2 separate regions of the Homo sapiens genome follow, and region 1 is linked to region 2. The links come from fine-mapping of genetic effects on gene expression. A gene starts in region 2. The other region holds a variant in brackets. All regions are shown on one strand. Distances are from middle to middle. Region 1 overlaps GTPBP1 (GTP binding protein 1). Region 2 holds the start of SUN2 (Sad1 and UNC84 domain containing 2).

The links. PIP is the estimated chance that this variant, and not a neighbour inherited with it, causes the effect. A credible set is the group of variants that fine-mapping cannot tell apart.
Region 1: its variant is the best candidate, but not a certain one, in a credible set for the expression of SUN2 in whole blood (TOPMed, PIP 0.69).

The regions. Positions count from the first base shown.
Region 1 is chr22:38,719,663-38,725,033 of GRCh38, reverse strand. GTPBP1 (GTP binding protein 1) reads right to left here. Exons shown (of 12, transcript NM_004286.5): 5 at 3,169-3,292; 6 at 623-737. It also overlaps the pseudogene PRDX3P1. Among named protein-coding and RNA genes, the nearest start is that of GTPBP1, 16 kb to the right of the region's middle. The variant G/A (reference allele first, on the strand shown) is at 3,158.
Region 2 is chr22:38,752,890-38,758,218 of GRCh38, reverse strand. It overlaps SUN2 (Sad1 and UNC84 domain containing 2), which reads left to right and starts at 2,221. Exons shown (of 18, transcript NM_015374.3): 1 at 2,221-2,456. RefSeq lists enhancers at 940-1,079, 3,338-3,407 and silencers at 1,838-2,387, 2,498-2,847.

The DNA.
Region 1 (5,371 bases), 33 kb after region 2:
AGTTCACCATTATCGAGAGAGCATCTCTCACCAAGGAGCTGAACACCTTGAGGACAAGGATTGTGTTCAATTCAACTCTGAATCCTCAACATCTAGATGAAGAGTCTCGCAGAACAAACATCCAATAAATATTTATGGAATGAAAGAATACATTAATGAGTAAATGCCAAAACTGATCTGATTAGTGAGCTTTTGAGGAACAACAGTATAAAAAACTGAGTTACAAAAATGGCTGTGTATTTACCATCCATCAGCCAGGCAGGGCATTAAGTGCTCTACATACTTCATTTCCAACATTCACGGGAGCCCTACAGGGAAGGGAATGTTATTCCCATTTCACAGATAAGGACACTGAAGTCTCAGCCGGGATGCCAACCCCAGGAATGCCAGCACCTCACAATCTGGGTTACGTGATATTACCCCTGGGCAACAATGCTGGCTTGGGAGACCCTGCGCTAAGATTGGAAGCTTCTATTTCCTCCGATCTCTGAATAGGGAGAGGTGTTGATGTGGTGTTTTCATGAGACCTTATGCCCAAACTGACAGCCATTCCAGGCCCATCACTCACTGTGGTCCTGCCTGCAAGGGTGCCTGTCTGAAGTGTGCGCTCCCCACGCGTTACCTTTCAGAGCTGAAGTTGGAGGCTGTGACAATCACATCATCTTTGCTCTGCACCAGCACGGGGATCTTCCGGCAGCCTGGTGACTTCAGCAGGCGCTGTAACAGCTTCAGGGTTTCTTAAAGGGTGCAATGGAACAGAATTAGGGGGACACAGCCTTCTCTTTGGCCAGGCTTTAAGAGCAAGATGGGTCCACTCATTACTGATGCAAGCAGGAGACAGACAGATAGATGGACCAGTGTTAAATGCCACAATGCCTGGAGAAGCAAAAAGGAGGATCAAAACTTTGGGTGCTGCTAGAGTAAGAAAAGCACAGATGGGGCCTCTTTTCTAGGGTTCTGCGTCTGAAACCTGGCAGATTTCTCTTGTGTCTAGACGACCTGCCTCCTGTAAGCATGTGACTTGAGGGTCCCCAAGAAAAACAATTCACTTCACACTTCAGTTCTCAGAATGCACTACTTCCTGGAAAAAAATCTCATCCAACAAAAAGGATCTCTTAGACATTTAGAAGTCTACAGAGACCCTTATTATGAGGCTTCCCAAAGGGATACTTTTCTACAATCTTTAGCAGTGAGGGAGAAAGGCATGAAGGCTTAGTCCTGCAACCCTGTGTCAAAGCTTTGGTGGCAAAAGGTAATCAGACCCTCTGTCCAAACTTCCCCGTATATATCCAGCTTAGCTGGTAGAGCCCAACTCCTTCTGCCTGGGGTCACCTGAAAAGAGGTGCCAGATTCAGGATCTCAAGATTTCTGCATTTGGAACCAGAAGGAACAAGGAAGAGGATAATTCTAGGCTGTGTTCAGACCAAGAACTAAATAGGGGAGGAAGTAGCAGAAGATTCTGGGCTGATGGAAATTCAGGCCAAGACCTAAGTACAAGACAAAGGAAGTTTCGCCCGCGTGCACTGAAGATGGTAGCTGCTGTGGGAAGGCTACTCTGAGCATCGGCTGCCCGACATGTGAGTGCCATTCCTTGGGGCATTTCTGCCACTGCAGCCCTCAAGCTTGCTGCTTCTGGAAGAACGAGCTTGACAAACATATTATGGTCTGGTTCCAGTCAAGCAAAATTCTTTAGCACCAGCTCCTCATACCATGCACCTGCTGTCGCCCAGCATGCACCCTATTTTAAGGGTACAGCCATTGTCAATGGAGAGTTCAAAGACCTAAGCCTTGATGACTTTAAGGGGAAATAATTTGGTGCTTTTCTTCTATCCTTTGGATTTCACCTTCGTGGTCCTACAGAAACTGTTGCTTTTAGTGACAAAGCTAAGGAATTTCATGATGTGAACTGTGAAGTTGTGGTCTCAGTGGATTCCCACTTTAGTCATCTTGCCTGGATAAATACACCAAGAAATAATGGTGGTTTGGACCACATGAACATCCCACTCTTGTCAGATTTGAGCAAACTTCCTGAGACTACGGTGTGCTGTTAGAAGGTTCTGGTCTTGCACTAAGAGGTCTCTTCATAACTGACCCCAATGGAGTCATCAAGCACTTGAGCGTCAATGACCTCCCAGTGGGCCGAAGCGTGGAAGAAACCCTCCACTTGGTGAAGGCGTTCCAGTATGTAGAAACCCATGGAGAAGTCTGCCCAGCAAACTGGACACTGGATTCTCCTACAATCAAGCCAAATCCAGCTGCTTCCAAAGAGTACTTTCAGAAGGTAAATCAGTAGATCACCCATGTGTATCTGCACCTTCTCACCCCAGAGAAGAAACACAGTTGAAGCCTGCTTTTATCATTTTATAGATGATTATCTGTAGAAGGCAAGGAACCAATTATGCTTGTACTCATAAATATTACTCTAAATGGCTAAGGCCTTTTAAACATGGTTAGTTGCTAGTATAAGGAATCCTTTATTGGTAACATCTTGGTGGCTAGCTAGTTTCTACAGAATATAATTCGCCTCTGTAGAAGGCAATTCTTAGATCACATCTTCAGTAGAAACACTCTTCTGTCTTAGCCTTACTTGAAGCTTGCCTACAACAAAGTGGAGCAACACACATTGAAAGCTTCTGATCAAGGGTCCTGAAATTTTCATCTTGAATGTCTTTGTATTAAGCTGAATTTTCTTTTAAGCTAACAAAGATCACAGCTTTCAATTGTTATCAGCAGTCAAATTTAACTCCTGCAATGAATGTTTATGTGATTGAAGCAAATGTGAATATTATTTTAAAAAGTGGCAGAGTGACTTAACTGATCATGCATGATCCCTCATGCTTGAAATTTATAGTTTACCTAGTCATTTTACTTATTTTATTCATTAGCTAACTTTGTCTACATATATTTCTAGATACTGACCAGTGTAACGGATTATAAAGGATAGTTATTGGATCCAGGGATTGCATTTTGAAATTATTATAATTATTTTCTTTGCTGAAGTGTTCAATGTAGAGCACATAATAAAAATAAACATATTGTAAAATAAAAAAATAAAAATAAAAAAGAAAAGAAGTTTCTGGGCTAAAGCCGTGGTAGCAGACCACCTGAAGGCACAGCAGGTGACAGCCCCAATCAGAGGGGCTGCTGCTAGCTGGAG[G/A]CTTCACTTACCTTGCAGGATGTTGGCAGGACACATGTCAATCTTGGTGACTACCACAAAGACAGGTACATTGAGTGCCAGTGCCAAGCCCAGGTGTTCTTTGGTCATCCCCACGATGCCAGCATTGCTGCCCACCTGCCCCAACACAGAAAGGAAGTGTCAGGACGAGAGAGAAAGAGATTGCTGCTGGGTGGACACAGGGGCTCAAAAGCAGATGTGGATGAAAGCTGGGCTGGGCAAAAATCACGTTAACCCCTGACTCGATGATGTGGGGCGTCAAAATCGGAGGAGACTTGCAAACAATAAAAAAGATAAACCCAGTCAGGGAAACAACTGTCCTGAGCCATCAAAATGAATCCAAGTCAGGAGCAGTGGCTCATGCCTGTAACCCCAGCACTTTGGGAGGCCAAGGAAGGCAGATCACTTGAGGCCAGGAGTTTGAGACCAGGCAGGACAACCTGGTAAGACCTCCGTCTCTACAAAAAAATACAAAAATTAAGGCTGGGCACGGTGGCTCACTCCTGTAACCCCAGCACTTTGCGAGGTCAAGGCAGGCGGATCACCTGAGGTCGGGAGTTCGCGACCAGCCTGAACAACATGGAGAAACCCTGTCTCTACTAAAATACAAAATTAGCCAGGCGTGGTGGCACATGCCTGTAATCCCAGCTACTCAGGAGGCTGAGGCAGGAAAATCGCTTGAATCTGGGAGGTGGAGGTTGTGGTGAGCCGAGATCGTGCCATTGCACTCCAGCCTGGGCAACAAGAGCGAAACTCTGTTTCCCCCACCCTACAAAAAAAAGAAAAATTGACTGGGTGTGGCAGGATACGCTGTAGTCTCAGCTACTTGGGAGGCTGAGGTGGGAGGATCACTTGAGCCTGGGAGGTTGTGGCTGCAGTGAGCCATGATCGAGCTACTGCACTCTAGCCTGGGTGACAGAGCGAGACTGTGTCTCATAAACAACAACAACAAAAAGTGGATTCAACTTAACATCACTGGCCCTCAGTTTCCCCATCTGTAAAATGGGGAGATAACAATATCCACTTCAGAGGGTCACTTGATGTTTAAATGTCACAACACACATGAAGTGTCCAGCACACAACTAGCAGGAACTAGGTGTTTAAGCAATTGCACCTGTTATTACTATTACTATCCTTCCAGTAACAATAAATGTTTCCAAATATCACCGTAAGGACTGGTTACATAAATCAGGGCACGTGTATGAAATGTGCTGTACAAAAGAAGAAATTTTTATCTACTGATATGGACTAATCTCCAAAATATGCTTTTAAGGGGAAAAAAAAAGTAAGTTGCATATAGAATGCTATCATAAAAAGAGGTGAGTGTTCAGCTATGCATGGTGGCTCATGCCCATAATCCCAGCACTTTGGGAGGCCAAGGTGGGTGAATCACCTGAGGTCAGGAATTCGAGACCAGCTTGGCCAACATGGTGAAAACCCCTTCTCTACTAAAAATACAAAAAAAAAAAAAATTAGCTGCATGTGGTGGCAGTTGCCTGTAATCCCAGCTACTCAGGAGGCTGAGGCAGGAGAATCGCTTGAACCAAGGAGGCGGAGGTTGCAGTGAGCCAAGATTGCGCCATTGCACTCCAGCCTGGGCAAGAGTGAGACTCCATCTCAAAGAAAATAAAGGCCAGGCGCGGTGGCTCACACCTGTAATCCCAGCACTTTGGGAGGCCGAGGCGGGCAGATCATGAGGTCAGGAGCTCGAGACCATCCTGGCTAACATGGTGAAACCCTGTCTCTACTAAAAATACAAAAAATTAGCTGGGCATCGTGGCGGGCGCCTGTAGTCCCAGCTACTTGGGAGGCTGAGGCAGAAGAATGGCATGAACCCGGGAGGCAGAGCTTGCAGTGAGCTGAGATCGCGCCACTGCACTCCAGCCTGGGCGACAGAGCGAGACTCCGTCTCAAAAAAAAAAAAAAAAAGAAAGAAAGAAAATAAAAGGCAGTGGGGGATAACTGGTGACTGATTCATGGCTTAAAAAAAGCAGCTGAAAGATATTTGGGAAACATCTGAAATAATATAAATACAGACTAAATATTTGAGGATATTAGGTAACTATTCTTCATTTTCTTGATTGTAAAAACAGTAGGAGACAGGCCTCACTTTTAGGAGCTGTATGCTGAAGTGTTTAGCAGTGAAAAGTCACAATGTCTACATTGTGACTTTGTCTGGGATGAAGACATGTCCAC
Region 2 (5,329 bases):
ATCACTCCAATCTCTTCCTCCATGGTCACATTGCCCTCTGCTCGTCTTCTCTGCCTCTCTTTGGTTTTTTGTTTGTTTTGAAACAGAGTCTTGCTCTGTCACCCAGGCTGGAGTGTGGTGGCTTGATCTTGGCTCACTGTGGCCTTGACTTCCCAGGCTCAAGCTATCCTCCCACCTCAGCCTCCTGAGTAGCTGGGATTACAGGTACACACCACCATGCCCAGCTAATTATTTTCTTTTTTTGTTTTTCTTTTTTAGAGATGGGTGGTGGGGGGGGGGGGTCTCACTAATTTGGCCAGGCTGGTCTCAAACTCCTGAGCTCAAGCAATCCACCTGCCTCAGCCTCTCAAAGTGCTGGGATTACAGGCGTGTGCCACAGTGCCCAGCCCCTATCTTTCTCTTAAAGGGTTACTTGTGTTACACTTAGGGCCCACCCTGATAATCTAGGATAATCTCATTTCAAAATCTTTAGTCACATCTGCAAAGTCTTTGCATGTAGATAACAGTCACAGATTCCAAGCATTAGTACCGAATTCCTGTAGCGACCATTATTCTGCCTGCTCCCAGCCCCCAGAGGATGCAGAGTTTAAGAGGGGCCTGCCTTCAGTCAGCCTGTGGGCATGAGCCTCACATATCCACTCAGCACATCCTGGGAGGGGACCTGGACTCCCCCCCGACCCCAGCAAGGCCAGACCCCCCTGTCTGCCAGGACCCCCGGAGAGGGGGAAGCAGGCTGTGCAATGGAGGAGGTAGGATGTGGCAACTCCATAGAAGTGGTTAGGACAGAATTCTGGAGTTGCGCATCCCAGAGATGAGGAGTCAGAGAGGCCCTTCCCCTACCTGGATGCTGCCCCTACGTCTGATTTGAATTCTCCTTTCATTGCTCCATCCAGCAGACACTCAGACCAGAGCCAGGCTCGGTACCAGGCTCTGGAGAGCTTGTCCATGTCCTCAAAGAGCTTGCAGTCTAAACCTAGGAGTGATAATGGCCAGCACCGTGGTCTCCAGGAGGGTGGAAGAGCAGGAGACTCTTCTCTTTCCAGAGCAGGCAATGGAGGCCCAGGAAAGGGGACTGTTCTTGTCTGGAGTTGGGCTGAAGCCGCTTTAGCATGAGGGTTTTGCCTTTCCTCAATCCTCCGACCCCACAGCCTTCCTGTTCCTGCCTCGGTGATTTTGTCATTCTTGTCTCGTTTCCTCTTGGTACTTTAAAAGTAAAATAACGACTGTTCATCTGCCCTTAGAAGGGCTGGCACAGAAAGAGATTCATCCCAAGCTGTGCACCTGCTCTATCTGTACAGTTGGCGGATGGGGAGCCAAGGAACAGGACCCCCGGAGTCAGGCAGCATTTTACTCAAACGCTGAGCACTCGTTCCAAGTCTGAGTAAGGTAGAAGAATGAGTGGCCAGCCCTGCCTTCCCACAGCTCAAGTGCAGCAAGCACCGTCCTTAAAACAGAAGAGCTGGCCGGGCGCGGTGGCTCATACCTGTAATCCTAGTACTTTGGGAAGCCGAGGCGGGAGAATCACTGGAGCTCAGGAGTTCGTGACCAGCCTAGGCAAACATAGTGAGATCTCGTCTCTATTTAAATAAAATAGAAAATCTGTTTAAAACAAACAAAAAATAGAAGAGCTGTCGTGAAACTTGGGTGCTCTGGGTAAAGCTTGGGAAGAGGCAGGGCCTCCCAGCATGTCTGGAATCCCCAAATTAGCAACCTGTTTCCTTGTCTGAAAAATGGGTGTAGAAATGGCCGGCTAAGAGGACAACGGCACTGGTGCCGGGTGTTGAGCAAGCCCTCGACAGCCTCACCGAGAGTGCACCAAGGGCCACCCGCGCGCTGCCGCTCCCAGGGCTCCCACCCTCCCCTCGGACGCCGGCCTGGTGAACCAGGCTGCAGGCGCGCGTGGGAGCGCTCAGAGCTGTCTCAGGTGTTCTGAGCCGCCAGATCGGGAGTCCAGTGCCCTGCTGAGCCCGAGCCCCAGCACAGGCTCCCGTCGCGTCCTCCCGCAGCCCGGGGTCCCCGCCCGCCCAGCGCCTCCCACGCGCGGACTCCTAGGCTGAGCGCGCAGGGCAGCGGGGCCCACGCGAGGGCGGGGCGAGCCGGGGCTTTGTGTTCAAACCGGCCAATGGGTGGCGGCGGTGGGCGGTGACGGCCGGCGGGGCCTGACCAATGGGCTGCGGCCTGTCAGCGTTGACTGACAGGCGCACACATACAGAGTCGGCCACACGCGCGCCGCCCGGCCCCACTCGCGCAGCGCGGGCCTCCGCCGGCCGCATTGTCCGCCCGCCCGCCTTGTCCCGCGTCGCCGCTCTTCGCGTGCCCGCGCGCCCCGGGCCCGGCCGCTGTGTCGCCCTGAGCGGAGCGCCGCCCGCGGGATCCCCACGCGGAAAGGGGGCGCGCCCCGGCGGCGGCCTGGCCTCGGACGCCCCCGGCCGGGCTAGAAGCCGCCGCGGCAGCAGGTGAGTGCGGGCGAGCTCAGGAGAGGGTTGGGGGGCCGCGGCCCGGCCTGACCCCGGGTCACCGTCGGGCCACTCGGGCGGGGCCGCGCCGCCAGGCCTGCTTCCTCCTCTCCGGGACGTGCTGGGCCGGATCCAGCCTCCACCCGGGTCCGCGGCCCGCGCCCTGACTCACCTCCTGGCCCCCGCCCCGCCTGCCGCGCCACTGGTCAGCCGGGAGGGCGGTGTCTGCGGGCGGGACTTCCCGGGCAGCCTCCCGGGAGGAGGAGGGCAAAGGCCGACTGCCCCAACCCGGCCCCGGGCAGCGCCTACGGGTTTTGTGCCAGACAGGCCGTTTCCAGGGACAGGCAGTTCCCAGCCTCTGCCTGTCAGAACTCAGGGCCTCAGAGGAAGGCCCGTTTTGTTCAGTTCTAAAACAAAACAAAACAAAGCAATGGGGGGCGCGGTGTGACTTAGAGAGCCAGGAGGCGCGCCTTTGGTGACAATTTCTGCAGGTTTGGCCTGTGGGAATGAGGGCAGAGGGAGTTAGCACCGGGCGTTTGGCAGGTCCCACAAGGGCGTGTGGCCTGGCTGTGCCCAGGGAGTGGAAATGTCACGAGGAAGATGCCCCAGATCTGGTTTAAGTCTGAAGATGGATGGAGATGTTTGTGATGGGGAAGGGCGGAATTGAGAAAGGAAGTCGCCCAGCTGAGAAGTGGGGAAGGATGCTTTCCGATGAGCGTTTCCTAACTGATTGTTAGGGAGGAGGTGGGGCGGGGGTGGTGTCTATTATGATTCGCAGTAGTAGATTTCAGCTCCCAGAGGCTCACTTCTTGTTTTGGAGAATGGGGCCTCGACCTTTTTCATCTTGTGAAACCCAGACTCAATGGTAAACTGTTTTGTGATGCCAGGATGCCGCAGGAAAGACTGAGAGGCATCTCTGGGAGTTCTGGGAGGGCGGAGGCGGGTGCTGACAGTTTTCAGCACTCCCCGCTCAACCTCCATCAGAATATTTAGTTCTTCCCAGCGGCAGCTTGGGTATGGTATAAACATGTTGCCTTGTTTCTGCCCTGGGCAAAGGTGTCACCTCCTTCAGCAGGACAGAGGCTAAGAGGAGTCCCTGTGTGGGCAGCTGGAGCCTTCAGGTAGGGACCGTACGGGCGGGGCAGGGAGGGGGGAGGGGAGATTACCTTATAAGGACAGGAATAGAGACAAGGACCCAGGCCAACTTCCTGCTTTTCCTACTACCAATCGGTCCCTTTTCCAACACCAGCTAAAAGTAGAGGGGATGCCAGATGGGCGTCTGACCTGGGAAGATGCCAACAAGGCCAGGACATGAGGCTGCTTGTTTTTCAGAGGAGGACTTTCTAGCTGGACTAACCAGACCTTCGGGTTTCTGCAGCCTGGGTTGGGAAGTGGACTTCTATACTCACCACACAACCCAGAGAACTGGTCATTTAAGTATCAACCAGGAATATTAGAAGTGATCAAAAGTCACAAGCAAGTGCTAGGAATTCCCAAGTGACTTTGTTGTACGGGCCAGCAGAGGCACTAACGTTGAGACTCCCCATGTTGGCAGTCGGGGACTTTGAATTCGGGTGTCTAGACCTGAGTGGTTCATTAATCTTCCTCATGTCACAGAATGCTACCTCTTGCCAGATCTTTGCACTTTGGCTTCCTTTGTCCTCATTATCAGTTCCAGAGCCTTGATTTCTGCCCCACATGGTGACCGGAACTGACTGTAATTCATGCTGCCCTCCTCCTCCCTATTTTGTTAGTTTGCTAACAAATATTTGTTGTGTAACAAGTTTGTATACAGCCTTGTTTTGCGCATGTGTGAGGCTAAAAAAGATTCTAGCTGAGGACACACAACTAGAATCTTCAATACATTCCTGAAACAACTGGAAAACTTTATGCCTGAGTAGAAAGACCCAGGCCCTACAGCCTGTCAGAGCTGAGCCCAAACCCTGGCTTTGGCACTTACAGGCTGGGGACTGTGGACAAGTTACCCATTGCCTCAGTGTCCAGGTTCTTCCCTTGTAGATGGGAGTAATGATACCTACCTTGCTTCTAATAATATAAATGAGGTATACAAGGAGCCCGGTCCCAGCAGACACTTACCATTTTATCATCATCTTACCAAGATGTGGCAGCACAGTGTGCACCGTGGGGACAGACAGTGCAAGCGCCATCAGGACGTAGGTGGGAGCCTGGCCAACTTGGTGAAACCCTGTCTCTATTATTAAAAGAAAAGAAAAGAAAAATCCTTTTGGCTGAGCGTGGTGGCTCATGCCTGTAATCCCAGCACTTTGGGAAGCCGAGGTGGACAGATCACCTGAGGTCAGGAGTTCGAGACCAGCCTGGCCAACATGGCGAAACCCCGTCTCTATTAAAAATACAAAAATTAGCCAGTCCCGGTGGCGCACACCTGTAATCCCAGCTACTTGGGAGGCTGAGGCAGGAGAATCGCATGAACCTGGGAGGTAGAGGTTGCAGTGAGCCAAGATTGCACCACTGCACTTCAGCCTGGGAGGCAGCGCGAGACTCCATCTCAAAAAAAAAAAAAAAAAAAAAAAGAACATAGGTGGGGTCTACATGGGAAAGGTTTTCCATCAAGGTTCGTTGGGGCCCTCGATGAACGAGCACATGTCAGCAAAGGGACACAGCTAGAGCGAGACTGGGAGAAGTCTCTAGGGAGAAGGCAGGTGGGGTGGCTGGACCACCGGGCGTGCAGGCAGTGACCAGAAGCACCAGAGTCTCTGCTACTTGTCAGAGGTCGAGGAAGACCCAATTCTGGCTTGTGCGGAGCTCAGCACCATGAAGGATAAAGACAAGGAAACTGAGAATTGGGAAGCCTGTGGAAAGCGCCCTGGAAGAGGCTCCAGAGTCACGAAGTG